Regions from separate parts of the Homo sapiens genome. Here regions 2 and 3 are each linked to region 1. The links come from fine-mapping of genetic effects on gene expression. A gene starts in region 1. Each other region holds a variant in brackets. All regions are shown on one strand. Distances are from middle to middle.

Region 1 (4,243 bases):
CCTGGGTCCTCATAGTGTTTCCTTTTCCTTTTAGTTGTAGGGGAATAAAGCATTCATTTATTTTCCAAGGGTTGGCTGAGTTAAGTCACATGAACATGTGTTCTATTTCAGATGGGTTTGAAACTAGGCTTGATGCCTTAAGGAATAGGGATGTCTAGATTTCTTTTTTCTGTACACTGCTTAAGACTCTGTGGCCAGCTAACTCTCAGGCTCCTTTGCTGCACTCAGATTGCTGGCCTCAGTTACACAGAGGACAGATTTGCCACATTCAAAAATGCTCTCCCTGGAATTGAAATGAGTTTGCAAAAGGTAGGAGTACATTTTATTCTCATTCTTGTGCATCTTATTTACCCTGATGGAAAGCATTACTTCTCTTTATCTTTCAAGGTGACCCAAAAGCATCCAAAACCAGGTTTTCCAGAATTATAGCATGTGTCCTCTAATGAAATGCCAACATTCACTCTCTTTAAAAGTAAAAATATCAAGATTATATAGTCATTAAAAAGAATAAGTCTGAACTAAGTGTTCTAAGATTTGATGCCTATGATGACTGGAATGGAAAAAGCAAGTCATATGATTCTATTTAAAATACTTACATTTGCCTGTGTGTAAAAGGCAAAGATCTCAATTGAGCACACGGTGGTTAACTGGGGAGTGGGACTATGGTATGTACAGAGGGCGAGGAAGGGGCTTGCACTTGTTCCTTATTTCTGAATTGTTCTGAATTGTCTAGATTATTCACTGAGTGTGTAGTGCTTAAAAATTAATTAGAAGACATCACACACATTCACTGAGAATCCTAATCAATCTTCACTGCATTTAAAGTCTGGAAACGGTTACATTCTCAGTTTGACTGGTTTCATGCAGTGTTCAATTGCTTCACCTGACATTCCTCGGGTATCGGGTTCTGTGCCGGGCACGGAGGCTACTAAGATGAATAACACCTGGTCCATGACAGGATGGCATCTACCCCAGAACACAGGTAAGAGAGACAGTGAATTTGGTAAAAATGGGCACCGTCATCAGTAGGCATACATCAGCTCCCTCATCTGATTCACAATTGGCCTTCTGTAGGCTTCTTCTCTTGGCAATGCAATTGGCAGGCGTCATCCTTTTATACTTAAACTCCAAATTTAGGATTAAGACTCCAGTTAATACTGCCAAGCAGAAGGCGTCCTTGGAGAAAGAGAAGTCTCCTGAACATACCCACTGGGGTACCTAGAATAGATTTTGCAGCGACACACAGATCCTGTGTTGTCTGGAGTCTCTGCTGAGTAATGTAGATTCTGGGACAGCAAAAGGGGAGCTGGTGACTTTGAACCAAATTTTACCTTTCAACTGAATCCAGGGGAATAATTTGCAACAGAGTGGCAGACGATACAAAGTGCTATGTTGAACACTAGATTGTGCTTTATTTTTTCCGCCCAACTTCACGTTTCCATGCACCAAAATGTTGATGCTATAAATATTGGATGCCACGCTTACCTGACAGGCTTCTTCCATCCCACCTGGGCGCGGGGGCTCAGAGCGAGCGCGCGAGCCGCGGCTGGAGCCCGCCTCTCGCGGCTGGAGAGGACTCAGCCGGCCGCGGGTTCTGCTGCTTGCCCGGGTGCCCTAGCCGCTTCCCAGCCAGGGCTCCCGCAGTCAGCCCCGCGCGCGCACGCGCGCTCCCCTCGGGCGGCCTCGACGCCTCAGGGCTTCGGCAGGGCTGCGACTGGCCGGCTCCAGCGGGCGGGGCGGCGAGCGAGTGCTCGCGGCCACGTGACCGACGCCAACATGGCGGCGCCCAGTGGCGTCCACCTGCTCGTCCGCAGAGGTAAGCGCGTGGAGGAGAGCCCCGTGAGGGTTCGCACGGTTGCTCACTAGGTACGCACCCGGGTCCAAAGGGATGCGCACCCGCGCTCAGACTTCTCGGCGCACACGACTGTACTTTCAGTGTTTACGAACACACGCAGGCACACACGATGACACATTCACACACCACAGGATCACACATACAAATTTGTTCACTGATCACCCGCCTAGAACACGTCACCACGTGGCATCTTTTCGCAATTACTCCTTGAGATTTGCGGGCCATTGTCTGAAGTTTTTTTCCCCAACTTCGGTTGTATCATTAGTGTAACCAACATTTATTCTGTATGCCGAGCAAGGAAACCTATGGTAATTCTGAAATGCATCTGGACACCCGGTTCCCTTCCCTAGAGCTTTTATGCAGGCATGCTTTTTGGGGACTTGCAAAATGTGATGGTTTTCTTCCAGTGACTTAAAGTTAAGAAGATAAGAAAGGATGTCTGGGTAGTTCTAAGTAGGTTTTATCCTGCGTGAGTGTTGAGATTTTAGTAAATATACAAATGCCTTTGCAGCAGAATTGGGGAAATCTTTGTTGGATTTGAACTAGGTGCTGAATCTTTGTTGGAAAGAACTAGAAAGTTTTTCCAAGGACGGGGGAAGAGGAAAACTATCATATTTTGAGGAGCTACTTAAGCGTCAGGCATGTAGGAACAGTTTTGTGAGGTAAATATTATTTTCATAGTAACAGCTACTGTTTATTAAGTGCCTTTTAAGTACACGATACTGTGTTAAGCGCCTTACATATGCTTGCTTCCTTTTAAAACTCAATGAATGAGACCCCGTCTCTACAAAAAATTTTAAAAATTAGTCGGGCGTGGTGACACATGCCTGTAGTCTCAGCTATTCTGGGGGTTGAGGTGGTAGGATCGCTTGAGCCTGGGAGGTCAAGAGGCTGCAGTGAGCCGTGATCGTACCACTGAACTCCAGACTTGGCAATAGAGCCAGACCCTGTCTCAAAAACAAAAACAAAAACCCAGTGAGTTAGGAATTATTTTCTCTTTGCAGAAGGGAAAAGTAAGGCTAGAGAGGTTAAGTAACATTACTAAGGTCGCATAAATGGTAAGAGGCAGATTGCTCATTTGAACATGACTCTAATTTTTTTTTTTAAGACTCATTTCTCGGTACTGCATGACGTGGTCACTCCATAGAAGTCAGTGTGTAAAGTTCAGCAGAGACAGTGCAGGATGAGTGTGTACAAAAAGTGAAGAGAGCCTGGGCACGGTGGCTCACACCTGTAAACCCAGCACTTTGGGAGGCCGAGGCAGGTGGCTCACTTGAGGTCAGAAGTTCAAGACCAGCCTGGCCAACATGGTGAAACCCCGTCTCTACTAATATACACAATTAGCTGGGCGTGGTGGCGCATGCCTGTAATCCCAGCTACTCGGGAGACTGAGGTAGGAAAATTGCTTTAACCCAGGAGGTGGAGGTTGCAGTGAGCTGAGATCATACCACTACACTCTAGCCTGGGCGACAGAGCGAGACTCCGTCTCAGAAAAAAAAAATAAATAAAAATAATAAAAAATAAGAAGTGAAGAGGAAGATATTTTTAGAGAGGAAGAAGGTTGGTAATCGAATAGACTTCAGTATTTCAGTGTTAGTGGAGATGAGAAAGGGGCCACAGGAAGATTTGAGGGGAGAGATGTGTATGGGGAAGGTGATGTAGCGAGCATTTTGGACTGGTTGCATGAAGGAATGGACATCAGCATGAGAGTGTAGCCTTGTGAAAAGACAGCCAATTTACATCTCTCAAGATCTGGGTGCCAGGCCTGGCAAGGTGGCTAATGCCTGTAATATTACCCAGCACTTTGGGAGGCCAAGGCGGGCAGATCACTTGAGGCCAGGAGTTCAAGACCAGCCTGGCCAACATGGTGAAACCTGTCTCTACTAAAAATACAAAAATTAGCCAGGTGTGGTGGCACATGCTGGTAATCCCAGCTACTTGGGAGGTGGAGGTGGGAGGGATCGCCTGAACCCAGGAGGCGGAGGTTGTAGTGAGCTGAAAAAAAAAAAAAAAAGATCTGGGTTCCAGTCCAAACTTTCTTTACTAATTACTTTTCTGTTTCCTCTTTTCACAAGAAATCATGGCTTTTAGACTTCATTTTTGTATGCTTCAGGTAATGGTGAGAAGGATCTGAGGAGATAGTCAATGTAGAGGAGGAGCCAAAAAAAAAACAACCTGAAAACATACATAGGTGTATGTATGTATATATATATACACCTATGCATGTATAAACGTATTTTTATATGTGTGTATATATGTATTAGGTTGGTACAAAAGTAATTGCAGTTTTAGAATCAATGACAAAAACTGTGATTACTTTGCACCAACTGTATATATAACATCTCTTTGCAGATAACAGAAATAGCATTAATCTTTTCTTTCTTTTTG
Region 2 (4,243 bases), 32 kb after region 1:
GCTACCATGTTATAGAGGGATATTCTAAACAAAATCTCTGCATTCTTACCCCATGAACCCTATCTTCAGCCTTTACCACTGGAAAGCATCTTTCTAAATTCAAATCCTTGATTTGCTTCTGGTTTTGTAATAAAGTCATGAGCAATAGGAATGCAGCCAGCAATTACGTTTCTGCTTTTGTCTTAAATTGGAGACCATGGAGCGACATCAATTCGCAGGAAATATACTGTTTCTTAAGAAAGTCTTTCATTTAACTTTCTTCTGTACTTAAAATTGGAAATATATTTAGCTTCTCTAAATATTTAGTTGTATGTGAACCAGTTGTTAAAGAATGTCTTAATTCTACAGTTAAGCTCACTCACATGTATGTATGTCTCATACATTAAAAATGTCATCCTGCTGTGTAGTTTTAAGAAATTACTTTTCAGAAGTAAAGACTTTAGGTATGATAATGATAATTTAGGAAATGATAATTTAGGAAAATTTTCTCAAGTACTCATCATTTTTAAAAATTCATAATTCAGAAATATTTTATTGGGAGACTAAAGACATTTATAGTATTTTCCCCCAGAGTGTCATATTTTTATAAAACAGGTTATTATTAACAAATGATATAATTTGAAATAATTGGAAAGGTCCACTGGCCCTAAAATATGTCCCCTACAGCCTTCTTGGAACATAAAATGTCCAACTACGTATTAGAATTTTCTTTGGGTTAATGGAGTATCCTCATAAAGGCTTAGTTTAATAGGAGTTATCACTCTGGGTTTTGCCAAGATTGCTTTAGAAGGAATGAGTTGGGTATGTTTTCAGTAGTCTTGGTGAAGACCCCAGAGGAAGAGCAGAGGGTAGGGATCTTGGTGGGAGAGAAGGGAGACACTCCCCTACCAGGGGCTCCAAAAGAGGGCTTTAGGTTGTAGGAAAGGTGGGCAAAGCCTGTCCTTTATAATAATAAAATGTTTAGTTAGAGGGGAGCCATATTTAAAACTATAGCACTAGACTTATCTCAGTTGTAAAATGGATATTATATAATAAGATGGAGGAAGTCATTCACATATGCTTTCTCTCTCTTTTTGAGCACAATACCAAAGTGTTTCCAGAATAATTTGGCACCTTCACTTCCTGCACAGACTTGGAGTAGAGTCCAGAAAACAGTCTAGTTGAATTCTCAGATGGGTTTTTGGCAAGAATACAAAGTAGCTTTATACAGCTCATCTCTGATGCTTTTCACTGAGTGTCTGAAAGAAAAGGGAGGATTTGAGGACCTGATTTAAACAAGGAAGTAACCCAGTGACTTAAAGAGGAGTGTTGTGGAATTCGAATCCCAAAATAAAGCCCTACGTCGTTGACTTTTCAGCCATGGGAATAACCAGTTGCTTCATTGTGTGTTTTGTCAAAGTGCCTCAGCCATTTGGTCGGCCTGATGGTTACCTGCTGCCTCTATTCATAGTTTCTGCGTCCTTTCTTGTTGCCCGGCTGGTCAAACATGTGTAACGGTGCCCTGGGGCACCAAGCATGCCCTCGGGGAGCTAAATGCTGCCAGATGTAGGGAGCAAGGGTTGATTCACATAGCCATAATTTCAATAGCTAATTTTACCTGTTTTCTTTTGGTTTTGGGTTTCCTTCTTAAAGAAAAACCCATTTGGAGTTGAGTTTTTCCCCCTTTAAATTGCAGTCTTATCTTGTTACCTCTAATCTCCCAGCCTCATCCCACTCCCGAAATAAAAGTGTGAGAAGAAAAGAATAGAAAAGATACGTGATTTATTAAGTCTGAGAGATTAATAGTTTTACTTTATGATAAAATCAGTAAAATGTTTCTGTTTTACTGGATTCTGATTAGTATTCTTATTTCAAAGTGAAATTATGTTTCACTTGACTCAACCTTCCCTGTAGAAATCATTTAGATAGAAATAGATCATCTTCTAGATAGATACTTTATGTAATCTCTGATTAGGAACACTGAATTTGTTGTTGAAAGCCCTATATTTTTTAACTCACTCTTGAAAACTGGTTAAGTAGAAGGAAAGAATCAAGCCCTTAACTTGATATATCCTGTATGGAACTGAACCTCAGGATGACCAAATATTTGATGAAAGAAAGTTTCTCTTTTTAGAAGTATTTCTGCCAACAAATTAAGAAGGTCTGAGAGAATATCACCATTTGGCAAACCCCTCGTGAAATAATGAATCTATCTACTGGTCATCAATGGTTGCTAACATCACAAAAAGAGCCACAGCTATCAGAGCACACCACTGTCCATTAAATATTCTTGCCAAAAAAATTGAACTTGAGGCCGGGCGTGGTGGCTCACGCCTGTAATCCCAACACGTTGGGAGGCCGAGGCAGGTGGATCACGAGGTCAGGCGATG[G/C]AGACCATCCTGGATAACACGGTGAAACCCCATCTCTACTAAAAATAAAAATTAGCTGAGCCTGGTGGCGGGCGTCTGTAGTCCCAGCTACTCGGGAGGCTGAGGCAGGAGAATGGCGTGAACCCGGGAGGTGGAGCTTGCAGCGAGCTGAGATCACACCACTGCACTCCAGCCTGGGCGACAGAGCAAGACTCCATCTCTAAATAAATAAATAAATAAATAAATAAAAATAAAAAAATCAAACTTGAATCAGAACAAATCCCTAGATTTAATATGTCTACAGGAAATACAAAGGACAGAGAAACATATTAATTGACACCACCAAGATACAACTGGTAAGTTACAGAATGTGAGAAGTGCTAGGGACAAATTCATTTTCTTAACAAATAATTTACGAGAAAGAAAAAAGGGAGGAATTCATTAAAACTGGCATAAGAGACATAGCAATCAAGTACAATAGACCTTATTTGGCTCCTATTTTAATAATACATTTGTTTAATTTTTTTTTTTTTTGAGACGGAATCTCACTCTGTCACCCAGGCCAGAGTGCAGTGGTGCGATCTTGGCTCACTGCAACCTCCGCCTCCCGAGTTCAAGCAATTCTCCTGCCTCAGCTTCCCAAGTAACTGGGATTACAGGTGCCTGCCACCATGCCCGGGCTAATTTTTTTGTATTTTTAGAGAGGCAAGGTTTCACTACGTTGGCCAGGCTGGTTTCGAATTCCTGACCTCAAGTGATGTGCCTGTCTCGGCCTCCCAAAGTGCAGGGATTACAGGTGTGAGCCACCGGGCCCAGCCCATTTGTTTAATTTAAAAAAGAATATATGACAAAAGGAGAATATCTAAAGGCTGATAAAATATTTGATGGTACTAAGGAACTATTGTTAATTTCTAAAGGTATAATATTATATTATTAAACCATTAAAAAGAGTTCTCATCACAGGCCGGGTATGGTGGCTCACGGCCTCCAGCACTTTGGGAGGCCGAGGCGGGGGGGATCACGAGGTCAGGGATTTGGGACCAGCCTGGCCAACATGGTGAAACCCTGTCTCAACTAAAAATACAAAACATTAGCTGGCAGTGGTGGTGCGTGCCTGTAATCCCGGCTACTCGGGAGGCTGAGGTAGGAAAATCACTTGAACCCAGGAGGCGGAGGTTGCGGCGAGTGGAGATCATGCCATTGTACTCCAGTCTGGGCAACAGAGCAAGACTTCATCTCAAAAAAAAAAAAAAAAACAAAAGTCCTCATCTTTTGGATGTACACATGGAAATATTTACAGTTGAAATTATATGATATCTGAATAGGCTTCAAAATTATCCAGTGGGAAGGGATGATGGTTATGGATGAAACAAGATTGGCCATCTATTGGCCATTGTTGAAGCTGAATGATAGATACATGGGGATTTGTTACACTAATCTACTTTTGTGTGTTTTTGAAATTTTCTATAATAAAAAGTTTTTAAAATAGGCTTAGGTAAATCCCAGATTTGCCACTTGTAAATTTGTGATCGTGGACAAATTCATTAGCCTCCATAAGTCTCAGTTTTTGTGTGTGTGTGTGTGTGTGTGTGTGTTATTTCTGGTTAGGGCGTTGCCTATAAAATAGGTACAAGGTTATTTTCCCAGTTTACCACCTGGTCCGGGTTGTTGTGCCAAACTTAATAATATGTATGATGTTACTTTGTAAATTGCCACAAATATATCAACTGTTTTATTATTATGAAGTTCCTGAAAGGATCCAGGTTTTCTGCTTAGAAAATTTAGTAGCTTTTTCTGCTTCAACAAGCAGTATGGCTGTCTACATAGATTATATCAACTAAAAAGCTCTGGAATAAGAATATAATTATGTATCCAACAAGGGTTTTATCAATTAG
Region 3 (4,243 bases), 65 kb after region 1:
ATTATAAACTATAAATAGTTTGTAAAGAGCTGTGCAAAACCTTGGGACTGAAAGAAGCTTTGTGTGTAAGATGGTATTTATTTCCTGAATACTGCCCATGGTGGAGAATGGTCTGCAAAAGTGATCAGGGTTGCACGTCTTGAGTTTTGGGGTGGCTTTTTGTTTACTCTTGACAAATAATGGAAATGTTCTAGGTAATTTTTATGTATTTGAAGAATAAAACTTGTTTCATTTTATTCTAGTGTCTCAGTGTAAGTACGGTTGCAAAATGTAAGAAAAGTGTATATGTAATAGGCTTTAGGGAACTTGATAGTCAGCCTTTTTACATATGTTCATTTTGAGAGGGTGTTGGGAGCTATCTTTTGCATAAATTATATTTTTGTGTTAAGAAGATGAAAGTGCTCTTAATTAACCATTTGGTGAATTGGAAGCTTGGTGCTATTTTTCATCAATGGTGAATATGCTTCTAACTGGGTTGGGAGGAGGAAAAAGAGAAAACTACTGTTTGTTTTGACCAGAAGTCTACTTCAGTCCAGTTTGACTCAAAGCATGGTAAGGTTAACAGACCATCCAGAGGCAGCACTAACAGGCAATGTTAAGTTCAAAAGGGCAGGGGAAGGAACTGGGGGCAGCCTGGAGGGTCTGTTGTGCTGGCTTCGGAGGTCGGTGCTCCGGCAGGAAGGGCAGAGCTCCATGAAGCAGGAGGCTGTGTCTGAAAAAATGATCCCATTGTCGTGCGCTGGGTTCTGATCTTCGTTTTCAATCCTTTTTCCTCAAGCACATAAAGAAGCCAGACTATGTGACGACAGGCATTGTACCAGACTGGGGAGACAGCATAGAAGTTAAGAATGAAGATCAGATTCAAGGGCTTCATCAGGCTTGTCAGCTGGCCCGCCACGTCCTCCTCTTGGCTGGGAAGAGTTTAAAGGTGGCGTCTCACCAAGCCTCAGAACGACTTACATAAGGGGCAACAAACACTCCTCTTTTTTTCCTTCTCCTTAACTCTTCTTTTAGGTTGACATCTAATTTGTTTTAAAAATTTATTTGTTTTAAATTAATTTGTTTTTAAAAATTAAGTAAAGCCTTGGGATGGGGAAAAGGAATTTTATTATTTTATGTGTTTATTCAAGAAGTAATTTAAAATCCAAATTCAATTTTAACTAGCAGAATTCTAGAGATACTTTGGTCTCAGTCAACCTATCCAAGTTGATCAATGGCAGACAGCTTTGATTTTTGCCCCCCTACTCCTGCCTGTAGTTTCAGCTTTTACTCCCCACATTATTTCTGTGTGCTTGAAGATTTGCTCTACCTTGTCCTTTGTCTCCTATTTTCTTGCATTTGCCCTGCAAAGAAAGATCAGATCACATACACAAAGCTGTAGGTAATATAGCAGTGTAATTACATACAACTTCCTACTACAAGATTTAGTTCTTTTAGGCCAGGCGCAGTGACTCATGGCTGTGGATCATTTGAGGTCAGGAGTTCGAGACCAGCCTGGCCAACATGGTGAAACCCCACCTCTACTAAAAATATAAAAATTAGCCAGGCATGGTGGCGGGCACCTGTAGTCCCAGCTACTTGGGAGGCTGAGGCAGGAGAATCACTTGAACCCAGGAGGTGGAGGTTGCAGTGAGCCAAGATCATGCTACTGTACTCCAGTCTGGGCAACAGAGTGAGACTCCATCTCAAAAAAAAAAAAAAAAAGATTTAGTTCTTTCATTTAGTTCTTTCATAATAATCTGAAGCACCCTTCTGTATAAGGATTATAAAAGAAAAATATGAGCCTATTTTCTGCCAAAAGGTGGGCAGAATTTAGGAAGTGAGACTCAAAGATAAAATCACTCACAGTATCTTCTGTGTAATAAACTTACAACAC[G/A]GCTAAACATAATGTATATATACAAAATGAAGAAAATTATTGAAGAAATGGTTAATTTTTAATAAAAGATTTTATTTTTGTTTTAGAATTTTATTTATGTTTATGGAGTTTATGGAAATAGTCTTCATATACTTATAAAACTCAATTTCAGTTTTCTTTTAGTTTGGGAGCAATTTAGTTTGGAATACCTTTAGTAAGGAAAAAATATTTTAAAAATTACATTTATTTAGACATGAAAGAAATGAAGATTACTTAAAATCAAATCTCTACAAACTATATTAGACTCACTCTTTTAAATATCAACCATAATCTCTGTGCCATTGCTGCAAAACCCCTGTAATGTTTTACTGAGATAAAAAGATGCGAGTTGACCTACTTTTCAAGCTTTTCAAGGTTCAACTGATGAACCTTTTGAGCATTTATTCACATGCGCTGGGTAGCCCAGGGCACCAATCATTGAGAAAGAGTAAGGAATTGCCGAAGAACATAATTTTGAAATCCTCAGGCCAAAAGGGAGTTATGTCATTTAATGACTCACAAATGATTTAGAGGATCGTAGGGTTTAACATTTCTATTTCCTAATGGTCCATAACACCATCATATGCCCAAATGATTGTCCACAAGGCACAGTTGAGGATTCTAACACTAATCATAATTAATTCAAATGTTGTACCATAACTTTATCATAGTAAATTTATACAGTCTCACATGGAAGTACTGTTGCTATAGCATAGTTGATAAATACAAGAAATGTCTTCAATTGTTGCTGCACAATTTCTTTATTTAACATTTTAGGTTGACATGACAACTGAAGAGATAGATGCTCTTGTTCATCGGGAAATCATCAGTCATAATGCCTATCCCTCACCTCTAGGCTATGGAGGTTTTCCAAAATCTGTTTGTACCTCTGTAAACAACGTGCTCTGTCATGGTATTCCTGACAGGTATTCAGTTCTTAATAACATATTGTTCCTTTGGAAACTAAAACATGAAGCTAAGATCTGTAACATATGTTGAAAGACACTATCATTCAATTGAAACCCACCGGTAAACTTCTGAAATTGATTATGATAAAACAGAAATTTTGAAGTATTTTACTTCTAAATGGATACACCACCACCATTTAATGTTTGTTAAAGCAGTGCATAATCTAAATGGGGGTTGTGCATTACGTATGTCTTTTACTTCTTAGATTTTAATCATATAAGTGGTAAAATTCAAATGTGGCAAATTTTTCTTATCAACTCTTGTTTTGGTTCTTGGCAAAATTAAGGTAATAAATTAAGTGCATCTTTTGAAATAAAGATTAGATTTAGTTATCCTGTGTAGTCCTCCTTCACTCCAAATTATCACTGCATCCCATTGGGTTTGTGACAGTAGTCATTAAGTATTTATTTTTATTTTCCTTTTATTGAGATCTGTCTATCACCATTTTTTTTTCTGTTTACGTTTTAGTCGACCTCTTCAGGATGGAGATATTATCAACATTGATGTCACAGTGAGTAAATCATATAAAAAATTGTCTTTGATCAACTTCAGAATTGCTGGTAGCAACAGGAAGAGTGGATTGAAAATGTGAACTGCACCAGTGGAAGTGCTGTTTACTTCTAGACCCAGACGCAAGCAGCTGGTTTCCTTTTTTGTCTTTAACTCTGTGTTTATTCCAAGTAAACCCAGGCCTGACTTGAATTTAGGGCTGCAATCAGATGCACTGAGATCAATGTTGGCCTAAGTGAAATGTCAACCCAATCCTGCTATGTGTCATGTTTTTGAGAAGGTGTAATTGTTATTGATCCACTGTGTAGTTAACGCAGAGCACCACAGCACTGGGCAGCTGCTGAAGCTAGATATGTATGAGATGAGCTAACACGAAGAAAGCCAGCATTTTTCCTTCACTCTGCCAAGATTGATCTTCCTCTTCCTGCTGATTTTGAGTGGGGCCTGTCATTATCTTACTCTGTCATTAGGGGCTACATTGGCCTGTGTATGTCAGTCTATTTGGACAGCAACTCTTTTGCTAGCAGTGTTCCCTAGATTTATTAAAATCCCTGAAGGTAACGTTGAGTTCCATTTCTGGTATAGAGAGCCTTGTGCTCAAAGTAAGCAGAGTGGTTTTTTTGTCTGAACTTAAGTTTTCACCAAATGGTTAATAGCCTTTCTTTTAAGTAACAAGCCTAAGTAATTTATCATAGGGACTTCAAATTGTACAAGATGTAGCTTTTTCTCATTTTCTTAGCCTTTTACCATTCTCAGACTTGGATTATATGTGCTTTTACATTTCTGTTTATTAAAGAATTTTGTAATGATACCTTTGGATTACCTAGATTATAAATAAATTCTGTACATCTAATGATTAACAAATACATT

Direction of the effects. Alleles are on the strand shown, and positions count from the first base shown. SD is a standard deviation of normalised expression in the study named. Not every link is listed here.
For the expression in thyroid of the gene that starts at base 1,760 in region 1, A is the high allele of the variant in region 3 and G is the other (small effect, 0.22 SD a copy in GTEx).

The links. PIP is the estimated chance that this variant, and not a neighbour inherited with it, causes the effect.
Region 2: its variant is the best candidate, but not a certain one, in a credible set for the expression of METAP1D in whole blood (TOPMed, PIP 0.65).
Region 3: its variant is the best candidate, but not a certain one, in a credible set for the expression of METAP1D in thyroid (GTEx, PIP 0.83).

The regions. Positions count from the first base shown.
Region 1 is chr2:171,998,194-172,002,436 of GRCh38, forward strand. METAP1D (methionyl aminopeptidase type 1D, mitochondrial) reads left to right here and starts at 1,760. Exons shown (of 10, transcript NM_199227.3): 1 at 1,760-1,816. The coding sequence starts at 1,777. LOC124905590 (a long non-coding RNA gene) reads right to left here and starts at 1,716. Exons shown (of 3, transcript XR_007087296.1): 1 at 1,486-1,716. RefSeq lists a silencer at 1,455-1,754.
Region 2 is chr2:172,030,490-172,034,732 of GRCh38, forward strand. The region is part of intron 1 of METAP1D (methionyl aminopeptidase type 1D, mitochondrial); the gene reads left to right. Among named protein-coding and RNA genes, the nearest start is that of METAP1D, 33 kb to the left of the region's middle. The variant G/C (reference allele first, on the strand shown) is at 2,370.
Region 3 is chr2:172,062,933-172,067,175 of GRCh38, forward strand. METAP1D (methionyl aminopeptidase type 1D, mitochondrial) reads left to right here. Exons shown (of 10, transcript NM_199227.3): 3 at 779-928; 4 at 2,672-2,820; 5 at 3,332-3,374. Among named protein-coding and RNA genes, the nearest start is that of DLX1, 20 kb to the right of the region's middle. The variant G/A (reference allele first, on the strand shown) is at 1,877.